Homo sapiens: one gene and its partners. The protein of the gene in region 2 purifies or fractionates together with the protein of the main gene of each other region. This does not show direct contact. Each region holds a gene or a part of one and is shown on either strand. Other genes may lie near its edges.

Region 1 (10,068 bases), on a different chromosome or scaffold from region 2:
TGAAGGGAGTGCCAACAACATTCAGTATCAAGTTCAGAAATTTCCAAAGAGAAATTCTGCCCTATTGCCAAATAGTTACTTCAGAATCCTCACTGCACAAGTGATTTATGAAATAAGCTCACTGGGGGTAAAATCTACCAACAGATTAGAGTCTGGGGTTAAATGCTGATGTTTAATAAGCAACAAGAGAAAAATCAGTGAAATAATAAAAATAAAAGATCTTAACAGGGTTTGCCAATAGTGAAGCAAATAAACAAATACAAATATACTAACAGCATGTGCAACATAGTGAGACCCCCATCTCTTCCAAAAAAAAAAAACACCTAAAAACTAGTCAGACACGGTGGCGCACATCTATGGTCCAAGCTACTCAGGAGGCTGATGTGTGAGGATTGCTTGAGCCCAGAAGGTCGAGGCTGCAGTGAGCCATATTCACACCTATACTCCAGCCTGGGTGACAGGCCAAGACTCTGTCTCAAAAAAATAAAAATAAAAAAATAGTAGTAACTCACTGATATTCCCATTTGTTACCTGCTTCTATGCCAGAAATTACTCTTTTTCCAAAAGCAGTTAATATATACGACTAGGTGAATTAGTGATAGCTTAAATGCCTGAATATCCCATATAAAAGGGAATATAAACATTGGAACTTCTGTCTACTCATAGTATTGAAAAAAAGTTTTTGGAGTCAGATGGATACAACTTAAAATAACACTAGCAGTGTGGCTGTGTAGATTACCTAACCTCCCTGAGCTTATTTCCTCATATGCTAGATGTTAACAAATATTTAACGCATGACTTGCAGGTAATGAAATCATATATGTATTCAATATTATAATATTCAATATATTGAATAATCTTGAATAATATTCAAGATTCAGTAATATGAGATATATGTATGTGTATATGTATGATATACATATATCTATATAGCAGGGTGGTTAGTGAGTACAAATTCCCTTACTCTTCCTCTCTAATTCCCATCTACTTTTAATGTAGGCACATGGTACTAATTGTACCCCAGGACTCTCCTGCCATCTGTAGTAACTAGGTAGGAAAAAAAGAAAGCCCAACATGGGAATTTAACAGGTTGATCTGGCAATGATGACTTTCAGAACTGAGTGGCTTTTGCTCCTATCTTGCCACACTGTAACAATGTGACACTCTCTCCCTATAACTGCAAAAATTTCTGGAGCTGTAGATCTTGGGGTTCTTCACTGGATTTCCAAAAGTGCCTGGCAGAAATTTGCCTTTATTAAAGTCATGCACTCTCCTGGCAAAATCTCCCAAAAGCAAGCACTTTCTGAAATAATTTTCTCCCTAGATTAAATGTTTGTGTACCAAAGTACATATTAATATACAGGTCAGTGTAAGACAGAAATAGTTTATGTATCAAATTGCCCCAAGCTTTGAGTCAGGAGAGGGAGGGTAACAGTGTCTTTCCTCTGAGCTTCCGGCTTACAGCTGGTGGCAAAGCTGAGCCTGGCCTGACTTGTTCATGCCTCTTCACCACCTGTAGCCCACCCCAATCCCAAAGGGCTTCACAAGAATTTGTTAAGCAAATGTCTACAGCAACCTTATTTAAAGCTAAACCCTTTTACGTGCTTTCAAATGCTACGATCTAAAGACTTCTGGAAACTCTTTGATTTATTCCCCCATTTTTCTTAATCTACAATCTGCCTCCCATGGTTTCTCAGCATTGACTAACACCAGGCACTTCTGATAAATGAATAAATCTATCTGAAATGTCCATGAGAAAAATCTACTCTCAATCAGGAATGGAACTTTTGTGCCTGTGCATTACATTCCTCAAGATTACCATGAACTTGAAATGTAACAATATGGATATTACATACAATATGTATGTACAGCAATATGTCAATGAAAATATATTGCAAAAAATAGAGGAGAGACAAATATTGTTCACACATTGTGTAGTAGCTCTAAAAGCCCTTTCTACAAAGTAGTTATTTGGAAAGATAACAATTCATCACTATTTATGGTACAAAATTTTGGCTTTTGAAATCCAAGTTTTAAGTATCACAAAGCATATCTCTGTTATTTCAAGCATACATATGGAGACGAACACACAACACAAACACACACACATATTCATCTACTTTCTAATAATTTATGTACATTCTTCATAATAATGAACAAGCTGGCCTTATACCTACTTAAATCTCAAAACTAGTGCATATACTAACACCTGCCTCTACACCTTACTGTAGGGTAAGCCATCCACTTTCCAAGCCAGCCTTTTGAAGCTATAGCAAATCAAATTTTAGATCCAGAAAATGAATGCATGCTTTGGAAGTACTGTCATTTAACTTAAAGACATGAAGGACTTGAAAAGGCTACTTTACATCTCATCAAAACCATAGAAACTGTCAACAGAAAATCAGAAGATTACAGGCTGCATTTAAGCTAAATTCAGGGAAATCCTCTTACAATGAATTCAGAGTATGCCAAGAAAGGTGACTATTGGGAGAATTCTTTTTCCCTTCTCTTCCTTCTAATCCCAGCTTCTCTTGGTCTTCACCATCCCCCCACACCCCTAATCCACTCATTCTAATACCTCCCTGGACCAACCAGACAAATTGGTACTTAATCTCTCTGCCTCACCATCATCCACTCCCTCTGACAGCCCTCTACAGAAGAGTTGCCACATCATACAGCCAAAGCAAACTTTAGCTTCAGTATGATGTCTAAATACTACAGCTTTATCACTTGTGACATGCATTTCCAGAGGATCCTATCACATAGGTTCAGTGCAAGTACCAGAAATATTAACTAGATAATTTCCACTGTAGACAGTCCAGAGTATAAACAGAGACAGCAGATAGTGGTGACTATGATAGCCCCTAGAGGCCTCAGAGCTTTTTAAGAAACATCACTCATATAGGATTTCAAAAGAAAAATTTCCCTGTAGATGATACAGCAGAGGCCATTTCTCCTTGAGTCTCATAACATTACTCCCTAAAACATAATCCCTATTCCAAGGCCTGTCCTGTTTCTCTACAAATCTGTGTTTTAGCATTAAATATTAAGACTAATCCTCACTTCTCAAACAATTTTATGGACAAGGCTTCATGCCTCTGAAAATGAAAAATAAAACAATTCTTTAGTGCTATTTTTCTAGAGAGGAAATAGCAGATTATGATCAAATTGTGGATACTATATATACTCAGTTTACCAGATAACTCTTGTCACTGTTAATGACTCAATAAAGCCAAATCACAGGATATTGGGGGATGTGTAACAAATGCATGAGTTTGTAGAAGACCCCCTGACCACTGTCTCACCTCATTTTGAGAAACAGCCTCATTTTTGAGAATAATCAGGTTCCCAGCATTCTGACCACTTTGGCCTGTGAGATTCCTGCTGTCAGTCACTGCTGCTTGGGCTCCCGAAGGCCCTGGTCCTGTCTGGGCCCCTGTATTGTAAAACATGAAAGTGTCACTCCCTGAGCCTGCTGTCAGACAGGCCTTGTAGCAGTAGGTCTTGGTGAGGGAGCCATTCCCTCGAACTTCAATGAAGTGAGGCTGCACTTTGAGGCCATGCGGTATCCTGGCATCAATATTGTTGTTGGCTTGTTTGTACAGTTCTGCAGGGGACCTTTCCCTTACTCCACAGAAGCCTCCACAGCATGCAGTGCCATACGCAGTGTAGCGGTAGCACTTGATGATGCTCAAAATGATGATTGTCAAAAGAAATATAAAAGACACTGTGCTTAATGCTATTATTAGATAAAGGGTAATTTCAGAGTATGTCCGAGGGCTCTTAACATGCCTCTGAGTGTCAGGGAGGATTTTGGAAACCCTATCCACCACAGCTACTGTAATGGCCACAGAGGCTGATAGTGATGGCTCTCCATTATCTCGGACCACCACGGTCAGGTTGAAAGTGCTACCACTCTCATCTCCCATCTTCCTGGTAGTCCTAATTTCTCCTGTGTGCAGCTCTACCTTAAAGAGGTCCAGGTCAGAAGTCTGGGCTAGATGGTAAAAAAGCCAAGCATTTTGCCCAGAGTCTGAGTCCATAGCTATGACTTTGGTGACCAGGTAGCCAGCAGGGGCAGTTCGAGGCACCATCTCGAAGGCTGCTGACGAGTTGGTTGAGGTAGGGTACAGAATGTGAGGGGCATGGTCATTCATGTCCACCACATATACGTTGGCAGTCACAGTGCTGCTCAGTGGTGGGCTCCCCTTGTCCTGAGCCTCCACAGTCACAAAGAACTCCCGAAACTTCTCATAGTCAAAGGAGTTGACAGCATAAAGGCTGCCACTGGCACTGTTAATGGAGACATAGGAGGTGACTGGCAGCCCTTGAATCTCCCTCTCCAGAAGGGAGTAGGTCACCTCTGCATTCTCCTTTTCATCTGGGTCTGTGGCTTGCACAGTACAGAGCAACACACCTGGCAAATTGTTCTCCTGTATGTAGATGGAATAGGAGTCCTCCAGGAAGCTTGGTGGATTGTCATTGATGTCAGAGATCTCAACCTTCAGTGTACGCAGGGATGTGAGCTGCGGTATTCCCCCATCTGTGGCTGTCACCGTGATGTTGTAGACAGCCACCCGCTCTCGGTCCAGTGGGCCGCTCACCACCAGTGTATAGGAGTTTCCAAAGCCATTCAGTCGGAAAGGCAGTGTGGCCTCCAGACCCAGGCTCACTTTCCGGTTGGGGCCTGAGTCTTGGTCATTGACACTGAGAACGGCCACAATGGTGTTGGGTGTAGCATTCTCAGGCACTGGGCTATACAGGTCCGTGAGCACCACCTCTGGGGCATTGTCATTCACGTCCACGATGTCCACCAGCACCTTGCAGTGACCTGCCATGGGCACTGGACCCCGGTCAGTCGCCTGCACATAGATCTGGTAGGAGGAGGCTTCCTCATAATCCAGCCCCCCAATTACTCGCACTTCCCCGGTACTGGCATCTATGCTGAAGAGCTGCCTCTCCCGGTCCGACGTGTAGCTGCTCAAGGAGTACCTGAGCTCACCATTGGAGCCCTCATCCGGGTCTGAGGCATTCAGCTTCACCACCAATGTGCCTGGGGGTGAGTCCTCCCGTAGCTGGACGCGATAAGTGGACTGGTCAAAGGCAGGAGAGTTGTCGTTAGTGTCCAGGACACGCACAGAGATCTGTGCCGTACCCGAGCGGGCTGGGATGCCCCCATCCACGGCTGTGAGAACCAGGTGGTGCAAGGCTGCCTGCTCCCGGTCTAGGCCCTTACGCAGCACCAGCTCAAGCACTTTACTGTTCTCCTGCAGGGGCTTAAGGTCCAGCTCGAAGTGCTCGCTGGGGCTGAGCTCGTAGGTCTGTACTGAGTTGGCGCCCACGTCGGGGTCCTGCGCACTCTCTATGTGAAAGCGCGCTCCAGGCGCCACCGATTCGCTTACCTGAAGCTGGTAGTTGGGCCGCGGGAAACGCGGTGAGTTGTCGTTGATGTCCAATATTTCCACCTCAACGGCGCTCACCGCCACGGGGTTGTGCGCCAGCACTTCCAAGCTGAGCAGGCAGCGAGGCCGCTGCTCACACAGCGCCTCCCGATCAATGCGCTCGTTGACGAAGAGCGCTCCACTCGTCAGGTCCAGCTCCAGGTAGCGCGGACTGGGCGCACCCAGATGGTTGATGCGCAAGCAACCCGGCCCCAAGCGCCGCAGCTCAAGCCCCAGCGCGCGAGCCACGTTGCCCACGAGCGCGCCGGGTGCCTGCTCCTCTGGCACAGAGTATCGCAGCTGGGAGGCCGCAGGGCCAGGTAGCAGCAGCAGCAACAGCAGCAGGAGAGGCAGTAGCAGCAGCCAGGGCATGGGCCGCCGGAGCCGTGGATGCTCTGTCGCCGCAGGTCTGGTGCCCGCCTGCTCCATAGCCACTGGCCGCGGCGGAGGCAGCCGGGCAGGGCCGGAGGCGGCAGCTTCCCCAGCCGTGCCCCACGCCCGGGCCCCGCCTCCGCTCGTGCCACCCTGCGCCTGCTCCCCCACCGCTCACGCTCTAGAAAGCGCCTGGGGCCGCTCCCTCCGTAGGCCCTCCCAAGGGCTCCTGGCCCCACCGTCCTCGCTGACTCCCCATATTCCAGCTCCTCCGCTCGCCTCCGAGTCGCTCAACCCGGCTCGGCTTCCTGCTGCTGCTGCCGCTACAGCTCCAGGGGGAGGGAAAAGGAAACAGAAGGGAAGACAGAGGGGGAGGGGGAAAGGGAGCGGTAGGAGGGCTCAGCAAGTCCTGCTCTGATTCCGCGCCGAAGTGGCGGACAGCGAACCCGGACTGCTCAGCCTCTCCAGCCCCATCTCCTTCACCCTGGACCTGCCGGATCCCAGCGGACCGCAGGAACACGGCCACTCCCTTTCTCCCTACCCCCACTGTCCAGTTCATCCAGTCTCCACCGTCTCTCCCCTGCTTAACGGGTCTTTAAGGAGATTAGTCTGGGAAAAGCAGTCAAGCCCCTAGAAGTCTGGCTATCAGCTCCCCAGGAAAAGATCTCCAAGCGCAATTCAGGAAAATAAACTGAGGGGCCTTAGCTAAGTATGGGCACCCAGGCGGCGGATCTAACATTAAAAGGAAACAACGCAGGGGGAGGCGCTCTGGGGTTACTGGCGATGGGAACTATTCACCTGACTCCCACATCTTCCCTGGACACTCTTAAGTACTGCAGAAAGTGCTCAACTCCTAGGGCAAAAGGAGGGGGATGGCAAATGCTGCCCTCTTTCCGGGAGCAAGCCTAAAACCAGCATCCTGGGATCCAAGACTCAATTCTGCTCTCGGCCAAGTGGCCCTTATTTTCAGTGTGTGCCTTGGCAAATAACCAATATTTAAATGTTTAAAATGCTCTGTTTAAAAAAATAGTCTCCATGAAGCTGTAGGCAAATCTATTATTTGACCCATTTTGGCGACAATGGGGAAAATCTGGTAAAATTTTTAAAGAGATTCTTCTCTCAAGCTTTTTCTAATCTTGCTTCAAATCTTTTACATTTATCACCCAAGACATTTTCTTTCAAGAGTAATTTAAAATTTTTTCTTTAATGGATGACAATGTCTTCAAGAGTCTGCAAAACCATTAAATCAAGAGCGTTACTGTTGATCTCCTAAGCCAGGCTGGAATTTGGATTCCATTAATGCTTTGCAGTTAAAAAAAAAAAAAAATCTGCTGTCATTAAGCAAAATGTGGGAGTCTGGGATTTATCTTACAATAACCAGCAATTTCAATGACTGCAGCTTATCTTCCTTAAATATAAGACTCCTTAGACTTCTGTTCTTCTGTGTCCCCAAGTTTCCTCTTGTACTGCTATAGAGGCAACACAGAGACAACAAATTCACTTCAGTAAAAGAGAAGGTAGAAGGATCAGAGGAAATCTTTCCATGCTGTGTCATTGCCTCTGCTGCTCAGTTCTGAATATTCACTCTTCCCAGGTTCTCACATTTCTTCCACAGGAATTTGAAATCTATTGCCTCATGTGCAAAAAAAGCACTCACTAAAACGTCCTTTCTCTTCATCTCCCAGTATTCTGTCATCTGTAGATCTTCCTCTATGGGTCATTTTCTAGCTATGGACTGGAACAAAGTCAGAGTGAGACCTGACATTTGGCATGCTTCCCTCCTAGAGCGGACAGTTAAAGGAGCCAAGGTTGTGATCCTGACACCCAGAATTCAAAGGCCTGAACTAGCACATCCCTTCGTTCCACCAACCAAGCACACTCACTATCAATGCTCCACTACCTAGCCAGTGTTATTCCAGAGAAGCGCCCAGCCTCCTATCACTGCTGCTTCTTATTTGTCCTCTTTGTTTCCTCAAGGGTACAGAGTAGGAAGCAATTTTCATCAAAATCTATTCCTGTCTCCTTTCTTGGGTCTCTGGCTTCTTCCTCTTCTCTCTGCATCCTCCCCAAACATCCCTACAATAATTCTGTCTCAGTTTGCTGTGGTAATTTGATCTCGGAGGCCTTAATCTCTCAAGTGCACAAATTGTGGACCTGGCCTGTGTCCTCACCCATTACTTGTTTCTGAAAATAAATGGCTTATAAGTGGAATCAAGTTGTAAGTTGTCATGAAAAGTGATCTTTCCTCCCCTTATCTCCTCCCAGCCCTCCAAGTCGCTGCCATCTCTGCACGCAGCTCAGAGACCTGGCCACTGGGTATTGACCAGGCATAGACCTGTGACTGTGAAAAAATCATAGGCACTTAAGGAAGAGATTACAGTGGCAGAGGCTTGGTAATTTTTTAATGGAAGCCCCCAAATGTCATGTCTTGGGAGAAAAACCAGGACTCTCCTTTCAGCACTCTTGTCATCTTCCAGCAAGGACACCTGCCAGGTTGTCCATTATGCTGTTTTAGGCCTTGTAGGTATTTAGCTCCAGCTAGAATTTACTGCCTTAATTATTAAGGAGTCAAATATAAAGCCAACACAATCAGCCTCATTTTGAAAGACATTGTACTAAAGAGATGGTATACTCTATTTGGCACTATAATGATTTCGTTCCTCACACCATTATACTGAGGCTCCTGCCAACCTTACTAGTTGTTAGAATGTGATTGCTCAGACTGTTGTTAATTACCCTTTCTACAAATATTAACACTAATGCCTTGACCACACCATTATGCATTCCTTTCCTTGGACCTTCAAGAGCTCTCTATTAAAAAGTAGAACACAGTAATTAGGAATATAGACTTTGGAGTCAGTCACACTCCTGCCAGTGACTAACTGTTTGGCTATGGACATGTTACTTAGCCTAAGCTTCACTTTACTCATTTTAATTAAGGAAAACAATAGTAAGCAAAACTCATACGGTTATTATTATGATTACATGAGAAAATGTATGTAAAGCAATTTGCACAGTGACTAGTTAAGTACATTATTGTTGTTGTTGCTGTCGTCATGAAATACAACAATTTATTATCATCAGATAAAACCTTAGTTGGCAGTCTATATGTAGCATGGCCCTTTAGATATCAAACACGGATAAACACATTTAACTATGCCATATAGGAAATCAACCATGATAGGGAAGATGCGTATGCAACAAAGTTAAGCTTTCCCAATTACGTCTAGAACTATATCCTACATTTTGAGAACAAAACCAGAAAACAGCCCCTTTTTATATCATGAAGTAAATGGGACTTCTGTTATGAGAACCCCTTCAAGAGATTTGTTTCCTCACAAGAGATTTACCTTTTTAGAAAACACAGAAATACTTTAGCAACAGAGTATGAAGTTAGTTCCTAAACATGCTGTAATCTACAGCATCCAGTAGGGAGCTTGGCACAGAGGTGCTCAATTAATGTTCTTTGAAAAGAACTAAATTTACAAATTTATCTGTGTAATTCTAATACAAACAGCTTCTTATTTTCTCTCCTCCTTATAAAATCTTACATACATTTCAAAGTCCAGATGAAAACCTACCTAATCCATCAAACAGTGTCTACTCTAAACACGAGGTTTTTTTTTTCATTTTCACAGTCTACAGCATATCTGTAAGATGGCATGTGTCATTTTTAAATTCATCCAAATAATTTAATATTATCTCTTTAATTATAAGCAACCTGAAAGCAGGAGCCATGTCTTATATTTCTGTCTCCTTCACAATGTAGAAACCCTTATAGACTCTCAATAAATGTTAATTGCTTCATTTTCTTCAGATCTTATTTTTAGTAAACTCAAGCTGCTACAGAAAAATTTCCTATATAGGGATAGAGCATATCTTATGGAGAGGAGGTTGAGAAGTATCTGTCAAATAGGGAAGGAGCTAGTTTTCATTTTTTAATTCATGTATTTATGTTGCTCTACAAACCGAGCACAAGTTATATAATAAAAAAGAGACAAATGGTCATCTCTGATGTTTAGAGTTGTCCAAAGTAGTTTTTAAAAATTCCATCTTGTTAAAAACGAATAGGATTCCTGATCTTCATGCATCCCCAGAAGGAAAATACTTTCCAATATGATTATAGCATTATTTACAGATAAAACATCCAGTGGATGGGAAGATGAAAAAGTTTTCACATAACTTGATGGCTAAATTTTTTCACATCTCCCTTCCTCCAGAAGAAATATATCAGTCAAATATTTGGCATTAACAA
Region 2 (10,215 bases):
AAATAACTGTTTATGCATAATGTATGAAAACCCAAAAATTTAATATGGGACAGAATTAAAATCATGATAAGATTCTTTTTTGCTTTACTCATGGAGAGTTCACATAAACAGATTATCTTTTAATAGCAAGAGAAAAAAATGTTTAGATATGTGTGAAAAACTAAGGGTACCAAAACAGTGCAAATTCATTTATCATCAGGAAAATCCAAATTAAAACCACAGTATCCACCAGAATAACTAAAAGGTAAAAGACAGAAATTACCAAGAGTTGGCAAGAATGTGGAGCAACCACATATACTTCTGGGGTAAATAAGTTGGTGCAACCGGTACTGAAAACTGTTTGCTAGTATCTACTAAAACCGAGCACATGCACAGACTACAACCAAGCAGTTCCACTCCCAGATACACACTCAACAGAAATGCACACACTCACTCAACAAAAGACGTGTACTAGAGTGTTCATGTACTTACTATTCATAATAGTCCAAAAATGCAAACAACCAACTGCCAATCAAAGTCAAATGTATATCTATATTAGGGATATATACAATGGCATATACACAGCAATGAGAATGAAATGAACCAGCTCGGCACAGTGGTTCATGCCTGTAATCTCAGCACTTTGGGCGGGTAAGGCAGGCAGATCACTTGAGGTCAGAAATTTGAGACTAGCCTGGCCAACACGGTTAAAACCTGTCCCCACTAAAAACACAAAAATTAGCCGGGCATAGTGGTTGCAGGCCTGTAATTCCAGCTACTCGGGAGGCTGGGTTGGGAGAATCGTTTGAACCCGAAAGCCGGAGGTCGCAGTGAGCGGAGATCGTGCCACTGCACTCCAGCCTGGACGATAGAGCAAGACTCCGTCTCAAAAAAGGAAATCAAAAATATAAAATAAGATGACAGGAATAATCCGCAAAAGATCAGTAATCAAAATAAATATAAATGGGCTAAAGCTACCTATTAAAAGACAAAGATTTCACACCCATAAGGATAGCTACTATCAAAAAAAGAGAGAGAATAACAGATGTTAGCAAGGATGTATGGAAACTGAAATTCTCACGCATTGCTGGTGAGAATATAAAATGGTTCAGCCTCTGCGGAAAACACTATGCTGGGTCATCAAAAAATTAAAAATAGAAGTACTACTTGATCCAACAATTCTACTTCTGGGTATATACCCAAATAACTGAAAGCAGGGTCTTGAAGAGATATTTGTACACCCATGATCATGGCAGCATTATTCATAATAGCTATGATGTGGAACCAACATAAATATCCTTTGATAAATATATGGATAAGCAAAATGTGGTGTATACATTCAATGGAATATTAATTAGCAATAAAAATGAAGAAAATTCTGACACATGCTACAACATGGATGAACCTTGAGGGCATTACATTAAATGAAATAAGCCAGTTATAAAAAGACAAATACTATATGAGGTACTATATTAGATACTCATGCAAGGTACCTAAAATAGGCAAATTCATAGAGACAAAAAGCAGAATGGTGGTTGCCAGGGGCTGCGGTAATGGATACAGAGCTTCAATTTTGTAAGATGAAAAAATTCTGGAGATTGGTTGCATAACAATGTGCACACACTTAACACTGGGGAACTGTAAACTTAAAAGTAGTAAATGGTAAAAATAAAAATAATAAATAATAAATTTTATGTTATTTTACCACAATATTTATTAAAAGACAAAGATTAACTAATTAAACAAAATCCAGCCATAAGCTAATGGTAAGAGTAACAATTAAAGAAGACACAGAAAATTGAAAATCAGTGACTAGAAAAAGATATTCCATATAAATGCTAACAAAAAGCAAGTACAGCAATATAAAGAGAATGAACAAAAAAAAAATTAAATAAGATGGCTCGTTTATTCCCAAAAGGTACAATTCACCAAGAAGATACAAGAATTGTGAACCTTTAAGCACATAAAACAGCTTCAAAAATACAACATTTAAAGAAAAATATATATTAAACATAGAAATAGTACAAAAACCCCTACAAGAATCATAATGGGAGTCTTCAATACAACTCTCCATATCAACAGGTCAAACAGAGAAAAAAAATAAGTTAAGGATGCAGAAAACCTGAATTACCATCAATAAACTTGAGATTAATATAGAACTGTATACCCAATATACTAAGAGTTCAGGGAACAGTCGTGACTGACAGTGGACTGCAAATTAATCTGTTCTTAATCTTTGTTTTTCTTTCAGCACTGTGGCAGAATAGAGATCCTAAAAACCTTCCAGCTACAAAACATCTTTTTAAAAATATAAAAAAATACAAAAATAACTCTGAAATCAATAGAAGACACATGGTGAAACCAAAATTCTAGAATACAGGGAGAATAAAGGCATTTTCAGATATTACAAAAACAGAAAATTGATCATTGCTGAAGTAATTTCTAAAGAATGTACTTGAGGGAGAAGAAAAATGTTCCAAAGAAAAGTATCTGTGATACAAGAAGGAATGGAAAGTGAAGAAATGGTAAACAGGTAGATAAAGCTAATAAATGTTGACCTAGAAAATAACAAAAACAATAGCAATAATGTCTCGTTGGAAGGGTTGAAGTAAAAATACAATTAAGGCCAAATGTGAGGTAAGTGGAATGAAAGAATTAGAAGTCCTTGCCTTGTTCACAGGACTGATTAAATAAATGAGCCAGGTTTTCCATTCAAACAGTTAAAACTTGAACAAAATAAACTCAAATTAAGTAGAAAGATAAAAAACAGAAATTAATGTCATAGAAAAATAAAAAATCAATAGAATTAATCAATAAATCCTGGTTAATAAAAGCTGGTTCTTTGAAAGGATTAATAAAATAATCATTAAGCAAGTCTGATCAAAAAAAAAGAGAAAAGGTACCAAAAAAAGTACTGTATCAGAAAGAGAACATACAGATACATACAGATATGTAAGAGTCTGTTTTCTTACACCAGAATACTATATACAACATTATGCTAGCATATATTAAATTTCAATAATGTTAATGATTTTCTAGGAAAACAGAAAATATTAAATTTACTTTGAAGAAACAGAAAAACTGAGAAAAATAAATGATCATGAAAAAAATGAAAAGGTAATTAAATACTGATATTAACTGCCTAAACAACACCAGCAGCAGCCCAGGCAGTCTGCAGTCAAGTTCTGCCAAACTTGAGGGAACAGATAATTCTTCTATTCCAGAGCATAGAAAATGATGGAAAGTTTCCCAATTTAATCAGAGAGGACAGCCTGATCCTTGTTATGAACACAGATAAAAATGGGGTAAACTATATGCCAAACTCAGATACCAAAACCCTAAATAAGATGCTAGCTTATTGATGTGAACAATCCAAAAGTGCATTTTAAATTAGCCCAGGGTTTTAGAGAAAGAAAATCTAGCAATGTGACCACCACTTATGTTAACAATTTTAAGACGAAAATCTACATGATCATATCAATGCATGCTACACAAAAGCATTTGGGCAAAAAACCCAACACCCACCCTTGACTTTTTAAACTCTTAGTAATTAGGCATAAACAGAAATGTACTTAATGTGATAGAATACACTCGGTGAAGATACAGAGGGAATGCTCCCTAAAACCAAGCCCAAGACAAAGATTCCTATTTAACCTCAATAGTCAACACTGCAGCGAGAGTAATCTATGGAAGACAAGGAAAAAAGTAAAAACATGAGAGACATCTGTTGTTTAACAGACAATAAGATCACCTACTTGGAAGAGGCAAACGAATCAAGCGAAAAACTATTAAAACTGAGACAGGCTTTAGTATGGAGGCTCAGCTTCAGCTGTAGTTTGGGCTACCAAATTCAACTCGCTTGCTTGGAGAGTTAATCCTGCAAAGCTAATTTCTGTTGAGGTATTAGGATTGACAAGCCTGTGCTCCTCCCTCCTCCCCCATCTTCAACACTGAAATAACACGGTGTTTGGAACTGGATAACAGAATCTTCCAAAAACAAAAATTGTCCTGAAGGGCTGACTTGTGCCCTTACTCAAAAAACACTTTATCTGCTGCCTGCAGCTCCTACAGTTGCTGGTGGATAAGCCTGCCAACCAGCTCGGCGTAATTCTTCCTGCAGAGGGCAAGGAAGAGCACTTTCACAGGAAAATTTTTTTCCGAACTGTATGCCGCTTATTACATAAACTTACGTGCTGGCAAATGGAGCTCCAGCAAAATAAGATATTCAGAGTCAAACTTCCTTAGGAAAAAAAAAAAAAAAAAGCAAGCACATAACACTAATTTCCTTGCATGGGCACTGGGGAAGGAGGTCGTTACTTCCGCACGCCCGCAGGTCCGCACCACCGGGAAACCCACGGGCACCGCGCGCTGCCCCCGGGCCTTCCAGGTGCACTGCGCCGCGGCGCCCCAGCTGACCCGGGATGCGCAGCCCTAGCCCTTCCCCTGTCACCCCGGCCAGGAAGGGGCGGGAGCGCGGCGGACGCCGAGGGCGAAGGGCTTCTCGGTCCTCTGCACCACGCAGCACCCCCAAGGCACAACAGGGAGGGTGCGGGAGGCTCCCGAGACCCAGGAGCCGGGGCCGGGCGTGCCCGCGCACCTGTCCCACTGCGGCGAGGGCTGGGGTCGCCTCCAGGGCCGCAGCTGTCGGGAGCCACCTGGCTCTCAGTCCCGGGTCCCTGCGACAACCCTCGGGCCCGGAGGGGAGGAGGCGGCCACCTGCCGCTGCCACCTGCGGCACCGGTCCCACCGCTCCGGGCCGGGCAGGACAGGCCAGGACGTCCCTCCTGGGCTGGGGACAGGACACGCGACGAGGGGACCGGGGCCCCCGCGGCGAAGACGCAGCACGCCTTCCCAGAAAGGCAGTCCCGTGCCCCCACGACGGACTGCCGGACCCCCGCGCTCGCCCGCCCATCCCTTCAGACCACGCGGCTGAGGCGCAAAGAGCCGGCCGGCGGGCGGGCTGGCGGCGCGGCTAGTACTCACCGGCCCCGCTGGCTCAGCGCCGCCGCAACCCCCAGCGGCCACGGCTCCGGGCGCTCACTGATGCTCAGGAGAGGGACCCGCGCTCCGCCGGCGCCTCCAGCCATCGCCGCCAGGGGGCGAGCGCGAGCCGCGCGGGGCTCGCTGGGAGATGTAGTACCCGGACCGCCGCCTGCGCCGTCCTCCTTCAGCCGGCGGCCGGGGGCCCCCTCTCTCCCAGCTCTCAGTGTCTCATCTCCCTATCTGCTCATCCTCTGGTCGCACATAATCGATGTTTGGGCGTCCCAAGCCAGATGTGGACCCCATTTCCGCACTCTACACTGGAGGTTTTCTAAGGGTGGTGCCCGGACCAGCAGCTTCAGCCTCATCTGGGAACTTGAGAAAATGCAGATTCTCCGTCCCACCCAGCCTATTCGGTTTTTCCTGCACTAAAACCATGAAGGTGGGGCCCAGCAGTCCACATTCTCGCAAGCCCGTCAAGTGATTCTGAGGCGCCCTCCAGTTTGAGAGCTATGCTCACGGCCTCACCTCCGCCCCGCAAGGAGCCCGGTCTTGCCTGTGGCGCTAGCCGCACACGGACACCTCATCCTGCGGGGCCCGCCCCCCCGCTGCACCCTCACCGCCCAACGCCTCCTCCGGGATGCAGCGGAGGCGCCTGGAAGTCGGCAAGGTCAACATCCCCCTCAGCATCTTCCCTACCCTCACGGCTCCTCCTCCAGGGGTGCCTCATGGCCAGGGGTTAGAAAGAGCCACTGTGTTTCTTGACATGGAAGTGGCCTAAGACCTTAATGAAAACTGCAGGAGTGGAATGACAGAACCTTTGGTCATACTTGAGGGCGTGAAGCTCAAATGAGGAGGAAGGAAAGGATCCAGGGAGAATAACCAACCCTGGCAAGTTGTGGCGCCCAGGTAGAGGGGCGAGCCTAGGCTAGCGGTTCTCGACCAGGGCCGGTGTTGCCCCTCCTCGCCGCCCCGCGTACATTTGGGGAGGTCTGGAGACATTTTTGGTTGTCATGATGCGGGAGTTGCTACTGTTGCCTAAGTGGGTAGACACGAGGGTGCTCCTCAACATCCTACCTGAAGGACAGGACTGCCCCACAAGGAAGAATGATCCGGCCCCAAATAAGAAACCCTGGGCTGGTCAGCAACAACCCCTTTGTTCTGAGAAGAGAGGAGGAAAGAATAAAAGAAGTGGGGTGAAGTTTTGGTTTGGTAGAGGAAACTTGAAGACATTTTCACTGGAAAGGAAGAGAGGAAGAGGAGGGAGATGTCTGTAAGGACGAGCAAACCGGGTGACAGCTGATTTCCTCATATTGAAGTAATGAGTCCTAGTTATAATAAATTCCTAATAAAAACCCAGTTTATCCCTGCAATAAACTTGTCTTTTTTTTTTAAATATACTGCTTGATTCTGTTTGCTAATATTTTATTTACAGGCTTTGCATTGATATGCAAAAATGAGATGGGCAATAATTTTCTTTTTGAATGTCTAATGTTGTTTGGTTTCAGAATCAATGTTATGCTCACATCATAAAAAATTTGGAACCGAGGCAGGAGGAGTGCTTGAGGCCAGAAGTTCGAGACCAGTCTAGGAAACACAGTGAGACCCCCCCATCTCTACAAAAAAAAAAAAAGAAAAAAAAATGGGCATGTTTGCTTTTTCCTTTTACTCTGAACAATTTAAGGAGCATTAAAATTATCTATTCTTTGAGGTTTGATCATTTCCCAGTTAAAAATGTTCCTCCCAGCCTGATGCTTTCTTTGGGGAGGGTAAATCTTTTAAGGCTAGAAAAGTTTCTTCTGTGGCAATTTTATTATTTACATTTTAAAAATTATTCTAGAGTTAATTTTGATAAAGCATGTATTTCTTAAAACAAATTATCCTTTTTTTCCAGATGTTCAAGTGTATTTGCATAAAGTTGAGGAAAGTAGTCTTTTGTGAATCTTTTAACTTCTCCCAAATATCTTATTTTGTGTATTTTTGCTTCTTTATTTTGTTAACTTTTAAAAGTGTATTTTTTTTTCAAAGAATCAGCTCTTAGGTTTATGTTTTTGGTTATACTGGAGCTTTTTTCTTCTTCTTTTTAAAATATTTTTTCTCCTTTATTTTTTAGACGTATTTTGATCTAACGTAATCGGAAGAAGGTAAATTAGAATCTTTTGTTACTATTGTGTTTTTATTTCTCCTTATTTCTCTGAAGTCCTGCTTTATAAATAGTACCATGTTATTTGTGCATAAATATTCATTTGTCTTATATTCTTGGGAATTTTCCCACTTCATCATAAAATGACCTTCCTTGTCTCATTTAATGTGTTCAAACTTTGCCCTGAATTTAACTTTGTCTGATATTTTACCATCCTGCTGAATTTTGTTTGTTACCCCAAACAACCTTTGCTGTTTTCGTCTTTTCTGAACCCTTTATTTTAGGTAATCCCTTGAATTAGAGCACTAAGTTTTGCTTTGTGATTAAATCTGAAAATCTTTATCTTGCCATAGATGAGTTGAGCCCTATTCATGTGACAGCTATATTATGCTGTTTCATAGCCCTTTTGGTCCTTTTTTCACTCTTGCATTGCATATTTTGTGTTTATTGTGTTTTGTGTTTCTTCTGATAATTTGGAAGGTTTGTATTTTTATTCAGGGAGTTGCCTTATAATCATACTCCGCAATACACATCGTCCTCAGTTTCTTCAGACTGTCTGTTAACTCCCTATTCTGAATAAAAATGACATTGTAATTTCCCTCTTTTTTCTTTACCCCTTTTCTTCTCCTCACCTAATGTAAATGATTTTATCCTTCTTTAGTATTTGCTTTTTTAATTAACTACATTTATAAATATCTTTATCACTTGATTTTTAAATCAGCTTTGAATGAGATATTTGGATTCCTAGATATAAAAGATGTTAATTATACCATTTCCACGTTAGTAGGTTTATAAAATCATACATTCTGCTGTGTAACCATAATCCCACGTTTGTTTTAGTTCCACTCCTACAGTTAAAAGATTCAGAAGTATTATTAACAGTTATTTTGCCATAGTTTTTTCCCCAACCCATTTTGTGGTAAGTTATGATCCTGCTTTAGTTTCTTAAGAATAATTTATAGAGCAGAGTGTGGTGGCTCACGTTTGTAATCCCAGCACTTTGGGAGACAAGAGGTAGAAGGATCGCTTGAAGCCAGCAGTTCAAGACCACCCTGAGCAACATAGTGAGACCTTGTCTCTACAAAAAATTTTAAAATTTAGCCAGACGTAGTGGCGTGTGCCTATAGTCCCAGCTACTCAGGAGGCTGAGGCAAGAGGATTGCTAGAGCCCAGAAGTTTGAGGCTGCAGTGACCTCTGATTGTGCCACTGCACCCCAGTCTGGGCAAGAAAGTGAGAACCTATCTCTTTAAAATAACAATAATAACTTATGAAAATTATATTCCCTGAGTTTTTCATGTTTAAAAATATTTGTTGCCTTTATCCTGTAAAAGTTTGAGTATAAATTCTTGGGTTATACTTTATTTATTGAAGAATGTATAAGTATTGTCTTCTAGAATTGAGTGTTGCTGTAATGAAACCAGAAGTCAGCCTGGTTTATTTTTCCTCAGAAATGAGGTAATTGCCGGCCGGACACCGTGGCTCATGCCTGTAATCCCAACACTTTGGGAGGCCGAGACAGGTGGATCACGAGGTCAGGAGATTGAGACCATCCTGGCTAACATGGTGAAACCCCGGCTCTACTAAAAGTACAAAAAGTTAGCTGGGCATGGTGGTGGACGCCTGTAATCCCAGCTACCCGGGAGGCTGAGGCAGGAGAATGGCGTGAACCTGGGAGGAGGAGCTTGCAGAGAGCTGAGATCGCGCCACTGCACTCCAGCCTGGGCGACAGAGTGAGACTCCGTCTCAAAAAAACAAAAAAAAAACAAAGAAGTGAAGTAATTGCCATGATGCTCCAAGAATTATCTCTTTGTCTATGAAATCCAGAAATCTCACTGTTATACATTTTGGAATTATTATTCTGGGCCAATATTTCCTGGGACACAATAGATTGACTCTATAGATTTAATTTTTTTTTTTTTTTTGAGACAGAGTCTCACTGCAATCTCAGCTTACTGCAACCTCTGCCTCACGGGTTCAAGCAATTCTCCTGCCTCAGCCTCCCAAGTAGCTGGGACTACAGGCGCGTGGCACCATGCCTGGCTAATTTTTGTCTTTTTAGTAGAGACAGGGTTTCACCATGTTGGCCAGGCTGGTCTTGAACGCCTAACCTCAAGTGATCCACCTGCCTCAGCCTCCCAAAGTGCTGGGATTACAGGCGTGAGCCACCATGCCCAGCCTCAATTCCTCTTTCTATCTGGTAATTTTTCTGAAGTTGAAAACATTTGTTCTAATACGTTATTTCAGTGTTCTTCTAAGATGTGTAAAGCACCCTATTCCCAGGTCAGCCCCCATCTTGCTAGTGAGCTCGGCTGGTTCTTCACAAGAGCTCTGGTTTTCTCCTGCTTAATCTCAAGTACCTCTGTCAGCCTCCACCTGGTTTATGATTTGGAGTTTTTTGGTTTTTGTTTTTTGTTTTTGACAGAGTCTTACTCTGTCACCCAGGCTGGAGAGCAGTGGCATAATCTCAGCTCACTGCAACCTCTGTCTCCCAGGTTTGAGCGATTCTCCTGCCTCAGCCTACTGAGTAGCTGGGATTACAGGCGCGTGCCACCACACCCGGCTAATTTTTGTATTTTTAGTAGAGATGGGGTTTCACCATGTTGGCCAGGGTGGTCTTGAACTCCTGACCTCAGGTAATCCACCTGCCTCAGCCTCCCAAAGTGCTGAGATTACAGGCGTGAGCCACCGCGCCTGGCATGGTTTGGAGTTTTAATCTGTAGTTTTAATAAAGATAGTGCTTATGTTTGTGTTTCTTATATTTCTTGGTACTCTTGGGTAATTTGTAAGATCCCCATATCTACACAAGAAGTCCATTTTCAATTCTTTTCTTCAGACTGTTTATTTTATTTTATTTTATTTTATTTTTATGTTTGAGATGGAGTCTCGCTGTGTCACTTCTGGAGGCTGGAGTGCAGTGGCGCGATCTCAGGTCACTGCAACCTCCGTCTCCCGGGTTCAAGCAATTCTCCTGCCTCAGCCTCCCGAGTAGCTGGGATTACAGGCACCTGCCACTTTTTAATTTTTTTAGAGACAGAGTCTCGCTTTGTTGACCAGGCTGGAGTGCGGTGGTGCAATCATGGCTGACTATAACCTCCAAATCCTGGGCTCAAGT
Region 3 (10,339 bases), on a different chromosome or scaffold from region 2:
AGGGCTCCCGCATATTCAACTTCAATGCACCCCGTTATTCCAACTGCATTCTTCCCGCATATTTGCTCAAGGTTCTGCTCCACACATCCCACTTTCAGCCTGTATTCCATCACTCCCATATTTCACCTGGATTCTGTTCCCTCCCAAATTGCTTGTAACCCCACCCCCAACCCCCACTCCACCCGCACACATATTTTCCACCTCTCTTCCCTTTAGAGAGCCCTCTCTGAACAACCCCTCCTCTCCACTGACCCCACCACCACCGCCACTTCTAGGATTCCCCGGACCCTGAGCCCCCTCTCCCCTCCCGCCGCTGACCCTGTCCCTCTACCTGCATCCTCCATCCTTGCTTCGGAATGACCAGTGGCTCATCCTGGTGGCTGATTTCATTCCAGTCCTGAGCCTCTCCCAGTTCCTCTTCTCAGCCTCTGCCTCCTTCCTGACCTCACGCATCCCAGCGGTGCCTTCGAGGCCCCGCCCTCACCAACCCATGACGTCACCACCCCATCCCTGCGAGCACTGTGCGGCTGCCCTCCAGGCCCCATCCTGGCCCACACACCTGACCCACTTCTCGGGCCTCATGACATCATGGCGCTGGCACACTTACACCCAGTGTTTCAGCCCCCAGCTCTCTCCCTCTCATCATTCACTAGGATGACCCCTTTCCTTTCCAGCGTTACATCACCACCCCTGGCTCCACCTTCCAAATGGCTCTCCCCAGATAGCTCACAGATTTCACAGCTCTTACCCCGGGGCCGGAGCTGAAAACTCTCCACGCTGGGCTCACCAAAGACAAATCTACATCACTACCTCCCATACCAGACACGGGCAAATCACTGCCCTTGGCAGCCCACACCTGATGGCTGTTTCCCCACACTCTGCAGCTCCCCACCACCGCCAACACATATTCCAGCCCAGCCATACCCTAGATGGGCTCTCTCCTGCAGCAGCCCTCCGCCCCACATTCACACGCGTGGCCTGGCCTGGATGACCCCCTTCCCGACCCCATTCTGACCTCACCTCCCCACCACGTGGGTGAATTGAGGCTGGATAGAACCCCCCCTTCACTGCCCCAGAATACAGACCAAAGCCTTCCACATTGTCCCCATAGACTGTAGAGACAGAGAAGCCCTCTGGGGAACCAAGCAATGAAATCTCTACGGTGCACACTGCGGCACCCCAGTTCCCCCTGGGGCATCAACTCCCTCTCCCACTGTCTCTCAAAGGCAAACTTTTGCCTTAGATAAGGACCATGCACACTTATTAACCCAATGAATGACTCACCCTAAATTCTGCTCTCTGGTGGGTATTATAACCATCCCCATTATACAGAGGATGAAACTGAGGCTTGTCTAGGATCCCACCATGAAAGACAGAAACATTCGTCTTCCTTCCCCTTACCCAGCTGACCTTCCCTGACCACCTCCTGTTTCCTCCCAGAACTAACCCAAATGCGGCCTCACACCTTAAGCATGGCACATGCTGCAGGCTGGGTACTTCTGGGTTCAGATTCCAGCTGCCTTTCTCCTTGGTGTGTCCTTGGGCAAAGTACTTGCCCTCTCTGGGCCTTCCCCCATCAGTAAAGCGGGATAATAAGAGCTCCTACCTTATAGGGTTGTTGTTGAACTAAATTATTTAGTGTATATAAGGTGCTTCAAACAGTGGCTGGCACTCCCTGTTACCATCTGTGTGATCTGTTGATTATTTGACAGACCAGGAGCCCGTGAGGGCAGAGCCATTTTAATCAATCTTGTATCTTCAGGGACTGCTTGTGAATTTAACGGGAGATGCCAGGGAATGGGGTTCTAGACACTGGGGATACAGCCAAGGTTTTCTCCCCTCGGCTCATTCCCTGTCATCCTCCAGGTCTCAGCTCCAATCCCCTCTCCTGCAGGAAGCCCTCCCTGACTCCCAGGCTGGGTCAGGAGCTGTCTCAATCACCACAGTGGCCCCAGCAAACTCTGAACCAGCCTAACAGTGTTTCTCACAGTGATGGCCAAGGAACATAATCCTTACCACAAGTGCTTATGAAAATGCAGCTTCCTAGGTCGGGTCCCAACTATACACAAGCAGAAACTCTGGGGGTGGGCCCAGAAATCTGCATTTCCTCCAAGTTCCTTCAGACACTAAAGGTTCCTTCTGCCCTTGGGCGCCACAATCTGCCCAGTTTATTCCCCCACCTCCGACCCTACCACCCCACACATGACCCTCCTAGTTCAGCAACCCTGCCCCATACCACAGGGAGACCCCAAAGGGTGGTGAGGACAGTATAGGAGAAGCAACACTTTTTAAACACCATGTGCTCTTCTAGGTGCTGGGTTCCATATTCACATGGAGTCAAACACTCTAGTGGGGAGGTCCAAGAAGCCCAGTGGATATAAACCAACAGTAATTGATGTGAGGACCGGGCACAGTGACTCACGCCTGTAATCTCAGCACTTTGGGAGGCTGAGGTGGGCAGATCACTTGAGGTCAGGAGTTCGAAACCAGCCTGGCCAAGATGGTGAAACCCCATCTCTGCTAAAATTACAAAAATTAGCCAGGCGTGGTGGCATATGCCTGTAGTTCCAGCTACTTGGGAGGCTGAAACAGGAGAATCACTTGAACTTGGGAGGCGTAGGTTGTAGTGAGCTGAGATGAGGCCACTGCACTCCAGCCTGGGTGACAGAGAGAGACTCTATCTCAAAAAATAATAATAGGCCCAGCGCAGTGGCTCACGCCTGTAATCTCAGCACTTTGGGAGGCTGAGGTGGGTGGATCACCTGAGGTCAGGAGTTTGAGACCACCCTGGCCAACATGGCAAAACCCCGTCTCTACTAAAAATGTAAAAATTAGCTGGGCATGCTGGCATACACCTGTAATCCCAGCTAGTTGGGAGGCTGAGGCAGGAGAATCACTTGAACCCAGGAGGTGGAGGCTACCGTGAGCCGAGATCGCGCCACTGCACTCCAGCCTGGGTGACCCGCAAGAGTCCATCTCAAAAAAAATAATAATAATAATCTATATCAGGTAGTGGTGTTATGAAGAAAAATAAAGCCAAGTGAAGGGCCATACAGTGACAGGAGTTATTTTAGCTTGAGTAGTACTTTAGCAAATGCCTGGTTGTGAAGCTGACGTCTGAGCGGAGACCTGAAAGAGGTGTGGAAGAAGCCACACAGACACCTGAAAAGACCTGATCCAGAAGGACAGGACAGCGAGTACAAAGGCCCTGAGGTGGCAGTGCGTTCAGGGACAGCGAGTACAAAGGCCCTGAGATGGCAATGTGTTCGCTATGTTCAAATGACAGCGGGGAGGCCAGGGTGGCTGCAGCAGAGTGAGCCAGGGGAATGAGAGAAGTGATGGGAGTTGAGGGGAGGGAGGAGGAGGAACCCAATAGGTTGGGGCCTCGTGGATATGGTGAAGACTTTTGCAGTGTAATGTGGGAGCCAGGAGAGGGTTTGAAAGGAGAAACAACCTGACCTGACTTCTGTTCTACTAGTATCCCCCTAACAGTGAGAGGCAGAGAGCCCACCTGGAAGGCCACTGCAACAAACCAGGTAAGAGCAGGAGACAAACTGAGGCCAGAGTGGTAGCAAAGGAGCTGGTGAGGCATGGTTGGATTCTGGATGTGTTTTGAAGACAGAGCTAATGCGATCTGCTAGACCATATATAAGTAAGACAAAAGGGAGAAGTGAAGAAGACTCCAAGCTAGCCAGGCACGGTGGCTCACGCCTGTAATCCCAACACTTTGGGAGGCTGAGGCGGGTGGATCACCTGAGGTCACGAGTTCAAGACCAACCTGGCCAACATAGTGAAACCCCTTCTCTACTAAAAATACAAACAATTAGCTGGGTGTGGTGGCGGGCGCCTGTAATTCCCTTGAATCTGGGAAGTGGAGGTTTCAGTGAGCCAAGATCGCGCCATTGCACTCCAGCCTGGGCTACAAGAGCGAAACTCTGTCTCAAAAAAAAAAAAAAAAGAACACTCCAAGCTTCTTGATCTTAGTACCTGGCAGGATGAATGTCCCATCAACTGGGTTTGGAGGTTGAAAGGAAGAAATCGCAAGATTGGTTTGGGACAAGTTTATGTCTGAATGTCAGATGAACTTCCAAAGAGAGAAGAGTCGGCCATGATATGAGTCTGGAGTTCAGGGCAGAGATCCAGGCTGGAAATACACACGTGGGAGTTCTCATTAGATAAAGAGGGTGAAGCTAGCCAATGGTATAGACAGAGATGATGTCATTCTACTGATGATGAAGCTGAGGCACAGAAGGGTTAAACAACTGGCCCAAAGCCACAGTAATGATCAGTGGCAGAGCCAGGATTCAAATTCGGGATTCAACCCGACGCCAGAGCCCACATTCTTAACCATCAGTAGAGTAAGTTTAAGAGTTAATTCACCTAAAACACTTGGCAGGTGCACAGCACATAGCAAACGCCACAGGCATAATAGGGCTTCACATCTCTTTAAAGTACATGCTCATCCCTGGAGGTCTCCTTCCCTCCCTTCCTCAATATTGCTTCTTCCCACGACTTTCACCCAAATCAAAGCTTGTAAAGCATAGTGCGCTGTAATAACCCTCTGCCTTAAAACCTCCTACTAAATCGCCACGCTGCATTCCAAGGACGTCTCTATATTTTACCATCTGCTGTCTCCTGCTTTACAACTTTCCCCATTGAAGACCCTCCTGCGATATACAGATCACCCCCAACTCACATGCTGCGCTCAGCCTCACAACCCCTCAATCAAGCGCCTACCCTTGTTAAAGGGCACCCTCCCTCCCGATTCCTACAAGGCCAGGTCAGCTGCCCACCGCAGCCCACTCTCCCCCGAGAGAAGCCCCTTCCCCTCCACCTAAGACCTCCACCACGGCCCGCGCAACCGCCACTCCCGCGGCCTCTCACCTTCTCCACTAGCAACCCTCCTCGCGAGCGGTTCAACTGACGAAGCTCCAGCCCCGCCCCAGGATCCGGCGTTCTCGCTTCTGATTGGTCACAGCTTACCAGCAGCCAAGTTTCCATTAGCCAAAAGAGACGCCCATCACTCTGTCCCTCCCCCAGAGGAGAACCCGCCCTCCAAAACTTCCAATTGGCTAACTAAGAAGAGGCTGTCCCAAATGGGTTGGGGGAGGCACCTAACGTCGGGCTCTTCTCTAATCACTACTGGCTAATAATGCTGCCAGTCATACAAAAAGGTTGTTCCCCAGAGTGGAAGGGAAAGAATCCCGGAAGTAGCCCCTTGACTCCACCTATTACCCCCTGCGGGAGGGTAGGCCGCGCCCACGTGGTGGGGAGGGCCTGGAAGGGAGAGCCGGGTGTGCATGCGCATGGGGAGATAGTGGCCGCGGCTCCGGAAACTGGGGAGTGGTCTCAGCATAAAGACAGGTTGAGATTTGTCATCGCTTGGTGCATTCCAAACCTGCACTAAGCATTTTGCAGGACTTGGCTTATTTAAACTTTATAACAGCCCTGCAAAGTTATTATGATTTCCATTTTACCACTAAGAAAACAGTCTCAGAGAGGTATAGCCACTAGCCCGGGTTCACACGGCTTTTGAACGACCCATATTTTAAACCGATCAGTCATGAACTGGAAGGATCCAGCTAAAGGAATTGAGCGCGGGGATGGGGGAGGAGGGACCTCTTTAAGAAAGGAAAATAAAGTTTAAAGAAAAAAAAAAACTGACATGAAAGTTTACTTAGAATATGAAATAATAACAAATTACATATTTAAAAGAGCCAAATACCACAAACATTGCAAAATCCCAAAGGATAACGTAATGTTTTTATTAATTTTCTGCCTGACACACCTCTGTGATGTTTCCTACTTTTTCAGCTGCATGTTTCACAATATCCTTGTCTACAAAGAGAAAAGTAAGTTATCTTTCCTCTAGCGTGGTTGATGGAACTTTTTAAAAATTCATTATAATTTAGAACAAGTTTCAGCTTCACAAATCAGTATTGGTGATGTTATTGAAGTCTTTTGGAAATCTAGAAAAACTTCTGGCCAGGCGCGGTGGCTCACACCTGTAATCCCAGCACTTTGGGAATCACGAGGTCAGGAGTTCGAGACCAGCCTGAACCACCTGGTGAAACCCTGTCTCTACTAAAAATATAAAAAATTAGCTGGGCGCAGTAGCGGACGCCTGTAATCCCAGCTACTCAGGAGGCTGAGGCAGGAGAATCACTTGAACTCGGGAGGCGGAGGTTGCAGTGAGCCAAGATCGTGCCACTGCACGCCAGCCTGGGCAACAGAGTGAGATGCCACCTCCAAAAAAAAAAAAAGAAAAACTTTCATAAAGTTTCATTCACATGTTAACTATGTTTTGGAAAATGTTTCCACAGACTAACTTCTGGCTCAATACTTTCAATTTTTTGTTTGTTGGTTTCTTTGTTTGCTGAGACAGGGTCTCGCTTCATCGCTGGGCTGGAGTGCAGTGGCATGTTCATGGCTCACTGCAGCCTTGAACTCCTGAGCTGAAGTGATCCTCCTGCCTTACCCTCCCAGGTAGCTGGTACTACAGGCACACGCCATCACATCTGGCTAATTTTTTTTTAATTTATTTTTAGTACACATGGGGTTTCACTATGTTGCCCAGGCTGGTCTCGAACTCCTGAGTTCAAGCAGTCCTCCCACCTCAGCCTCCCAAAATGCTGGGATTACAGGTGTGAGCCACCGCGCAGGCTTCCTTTCAATTCCTGACATTTCTGTTACACAGATGCTTCTGGAATGAGCCGCTAAAAGATACATTCATGCCATTTAGTAGGCTGTGGCCTCGCATCTAGTGAGTTAGTAACTTACACAACAGAAGCATTCCGGGAAGCCATTTCTACGCCATGACAACTAATTAGGTGGTTTAAGTATCCGAGAAGTATCTATGAACCACATAAAAATATCCCTGTAAACCCAATCTAAATGTATTCTCACTTCACCTTCCCCTCAGCTAAATCCCATAAATGCCTGCACTCCAGCTTGAGTGACAGAGCAAGACTCTGTCTCTAAGAAAATAATTAATAAATAAATAACAATTAAAAAAAAAGGAAACATGGATTAGAATCTGAAGGCTTTCCCTTGCCAGCTGTGAGACCTCCCACAAGTCATGCCTCTTCTGGGAACTTCACTTTCTTCATCTGTAAGTGGAGTTCAATTCATTGCTTCACTTATTTCTTCACTCACTTGTCAGGCCATTTATTGAGCACCTGCTATGTTCCAGGCACTTTTCTGGGTGCTGGAGGTAGAAACATCTGGTAACAAACAGGAAAAGCTCATACCCTAGTGAAAGGAAGGCAAATAATAACATATAGTAAAGAAATAGGCCAGGCGCGGTGGCTCACGCCTGTAATCCCAGCACTTTGGGAGGCCAAGGCAGGCGGATCACCTGAGGTCAGGAGTTCAAGACCAGCCTGGCCAACATGGCAAAATTCTGTCTCTACTAAAACTACAAAACTTAGTTGGGCATGGCGGTGCATGCCCGTAATCCCAGCTGCTTGGGAGGCTGAGGCAGGAGAATCGCTTGAACCCGGAAGGCAGAGGTTGCAGTGAGCTGAGATCAGGCCACTACACTCCAGACTGGGCCACAGAGCGAGACTCCATCTCAAAAAAAAGAAAAAAAAAAAAAAGAAAGAAAGAAATGTCCAGGTCCGGGGTGATAAGTGCTACAGAGAAAATAAAGCAGAGTGAAGTGGATGGAACTGGGGGTTAGAGGGGTGGGAAGATGTCTCAGAAAAGCTGATTTAGAGCAGAGACCTGAAGCAAGTGACTGAGCCAGGAATTTATTTATTCATTTATTTATTTTGGAGAGAGAGCCTCACTCTGTCGCCCAGGCTGGAGTGCAGTGGCGCCTGACTCACTGCACCCTCCACCTCCCAAAGTCAAGCAATTCTCCTGCCTCAGCCTCCTGAGTAGCTGGGATTACAGGTGCCTGCCACCAGGCCTGGCTAATTTTTTTGTATTTTTAGTAGAGATGGGGTTTCACCGTGTTGGCCAGGCTGGTCTTGAACTCCTGACCTCAAGTGATCCACCTATCTCAGCCTCCCAAAGTGCTGGAATTACAGGTGTGAGCCACCACACCCAGCCTATTTATTTTTTTTATTTTTATTTTTATTTATTTATTTATTTATTTTTGAGATGGAGTCTCGCTCTGTGGCCCAGACTGGAGGTGCAATGGCGTGATCTCAGCTTACTGCAACCTCCACCTCCTGGGTTCAAGCAATTCTCCTGCCTCAGCCTCCCAAGTAGCTGGGATTACAGGCACATGCCACCATGCCTGGCTAATTTTTGTATTTTCAGTAGAGATGGGGTTTCACCATGTTGGCCAGGCTGCTCTCGAACTCCTGAGCTCATGTGATCCACCCGCCTCGGGCTCCCAAAGTGATGGGATTACAGGCGTGAGCCACCGCTCCTGGCCAAGCCAGCCTTGAGGGTACCAAGGTGGACCATTGCAAGAAGATGAGACAGTGAGTACAAAGGCCCTGTAGTGGGAACATGCCTGGTGTTTCTAAGAAACAGCAAAGACATCAATATTGAGTGTGTGGAGTGTGACAGAAGATGATGTCTGGGAGGATGCCTGAGACCAGGTTATATAAGGCCTTGTCGGCCCTTGTGAGGCCTTTTGTTTTACTCTGAGTGAGGTGGGAGCCATCGAAGGTATTAGGCAGAGAGGACATAATTTTACTCATGTCTTTTTTTGTTTTTTTTTTGAATCAGGGTCTCACTTTGTCACCCAGGCTGGAGTGCAGTGGCTCCATCTCGGCTTACTGAAACCTCAGCCTCCCTGTTTCAAGCAATCCTCCTGCCTCAACCCCGCGAGTAGCAGGATTACAGGCATGCACCACCACACCTGGCTAACTTTTGTATTGTTAGTAGAGACGAGGTTTCGCCATGTTACCCAGGCTGGTCTGGAACGCCTGAGTTCAAGCAATCCACCCGCCTCAGCCTCCCAAAGTACTAGGATTACAGGGGTGAGCCCCACCGCCTGGCCTACTCATTCATGTCTTCAATGATCATTATGGTGGCTGCATTAAGAATAGGCTGTTAGCTACTCGGGAGGTTGAGGCAGGTGGATTGTTTGAGGACAGGAGTTCGACACTGCACTCCAGCCTGTGAGAACCGATCTCTAAAAATAAAAATTTAAATTAAAAAACTTAGGCTGTTAAAATAATGTGGACATGGAAAACAGCCAGTTTCTCAGAAAGTTAAACAGAATTAACACATGACCCAGCAATTACACTCCTAGGTGTATACCTGGGAATTAAAAACTGGTATTCAAATACTTGTACATGGATGTTCATAACAGCATTATTCACAATAGCTAAAAGGTGGAAACAACCCAAATGTCCATAAATCTATGAGCAGATAAGGCCAGGTGCAGTGGCATGCCTGTAATCTCAGCACTTTGGGAGGCCGGGGCAGGCGGATCACCTGAGGTCAGACGTTCGAGACCAGCGTGGCCAACATGGCAAAACCATATTAGTCTCTACTAAAAATACAAAATTAGCCAGGCATGGAGGCGCATGCCTGTAATCCCAGCTACTCAGGAGGCTGAGGCAGGAGAATTGCTTGAACCCGGGAGGCGGAGGTTGCGGCAAGCCAATATCGCGCTACTGCACTCGAGCCTGGGCAACAGAGCAAGACTCCATCTCAAAAACAAAAGAAAAAGAGAAAAGAAATGAAGTGCTGATAGATGCTACAACATGGATAATAAACCTTGAAAACATGATGCTAAGTGAAAGAAGACAAACACAAAAGGTCACATAGTGTATGATTCCATTTATATGAAGTGTCCAGAAGAGGCAAGTCCACAGAGACAGAAAATAGTGTTGTGGTGCCAGAGGCTGGGGGAAGGAGCGAATGGGTAATCACTGTTTAATGGGTGTGAGGTCTCCTTTGGGGGGTGATGAAATGTTTTGGAACTAGATGGAGGTGATGATTGCACAACATTATGAACGTACTAAATGCCACTGAATTGCTCACTTTAAAATGGTTAATTTTCTGTTAATGTGAATTTCACCTCAATAAAAAAAGAATTTAAGCAACAGATTAAAAAATCATTAGAATGAGAGGTGATGGTGGCTTCCACGAGGGTGGTGATGGCGGAGGTGGTGAGAAGTGGTTAGAATCTATTCTGAAGGTAGAGCTGACAGAATCTGCTGATGGATTGAGTGTCGGGAGGAAGAGAAAGAGAGGAGTCAAAAATGATTCTAAGGGTCCTGGAGTGCAGTGGCGCGACCTCGGCTCACTGCAACCTCCGCCTCCCGGGTTCAAGCGATTCTCCTGCCTCTGCCTCCCGAGTAGCTGGGATTACAGGTACCCGCCACCACGCCTGGCTAATTTTTTGCATTTTTAGTAGAAATAGGGTTTC

The links.
Region 1: the proteins of SPECC1 (region 2) and PCDHAC2 purify together in Homo sapiens (co-immunoprecipitation; one large-scale study listed by IntAct). This does not show direct contact.
Region 3: the proteins of SPECC1 (region 2) and CCDC61 purify together in Homo sapiens (tandem affinity purification; one study listed by IntAct). This does not show direct contact.

What each region holds. Positions count from the first base shown.
Region 1 is NC_000005.10:140,962,569-140,972,636, reverse strand, and holds the start of PCDHAC2 (protocadherin alpha-C2 isoform 1 precursor), read right to left. Parts: upstream 6,162-10,068; 5' UTR 5,871-6,161; coding exon 3,306-5,870; coding exon of another isoform or gene 3,216-3,305; exon of another isoform or gene 3,157-3,215; intron 1-3,156. UniProt on the Homo sapiens protein: Potential calcium-dependent cell-adhesion protein. May be involved in the establishment and maintenance of specific neuronal connections in the brain.
Region 2 is NC_000017.11:20,004,172-20,014,386, reverse strand, and holds the start of SPECC1 (cytospin-B), read right to left. Parts: upstream 5,029-10,215; 5' UTR 4,963-5,028; intron 4,225-4,962; exon of another isoform or gene 4,170-4,224; intron 3,867-4,169; exon of another isoform or gene 3,735-3,866; intron 1-3,734.
Region 3 is NC_000019.10:45,990,050-46,000,388, reverse strand, and holds the start of CCDC61 (centrosomal protein CCDC61), read right to left. Parts: upstream 4,923-10,339; 5' UTR 4,885-4,922; intron 1-4,884. UniProt on the Homo sapiens protein: Microtubule-binding centrosomal protein required for centriole cohesion, independently of the centrosome-associated protein/CEP250 and rootletin/CROCC linker.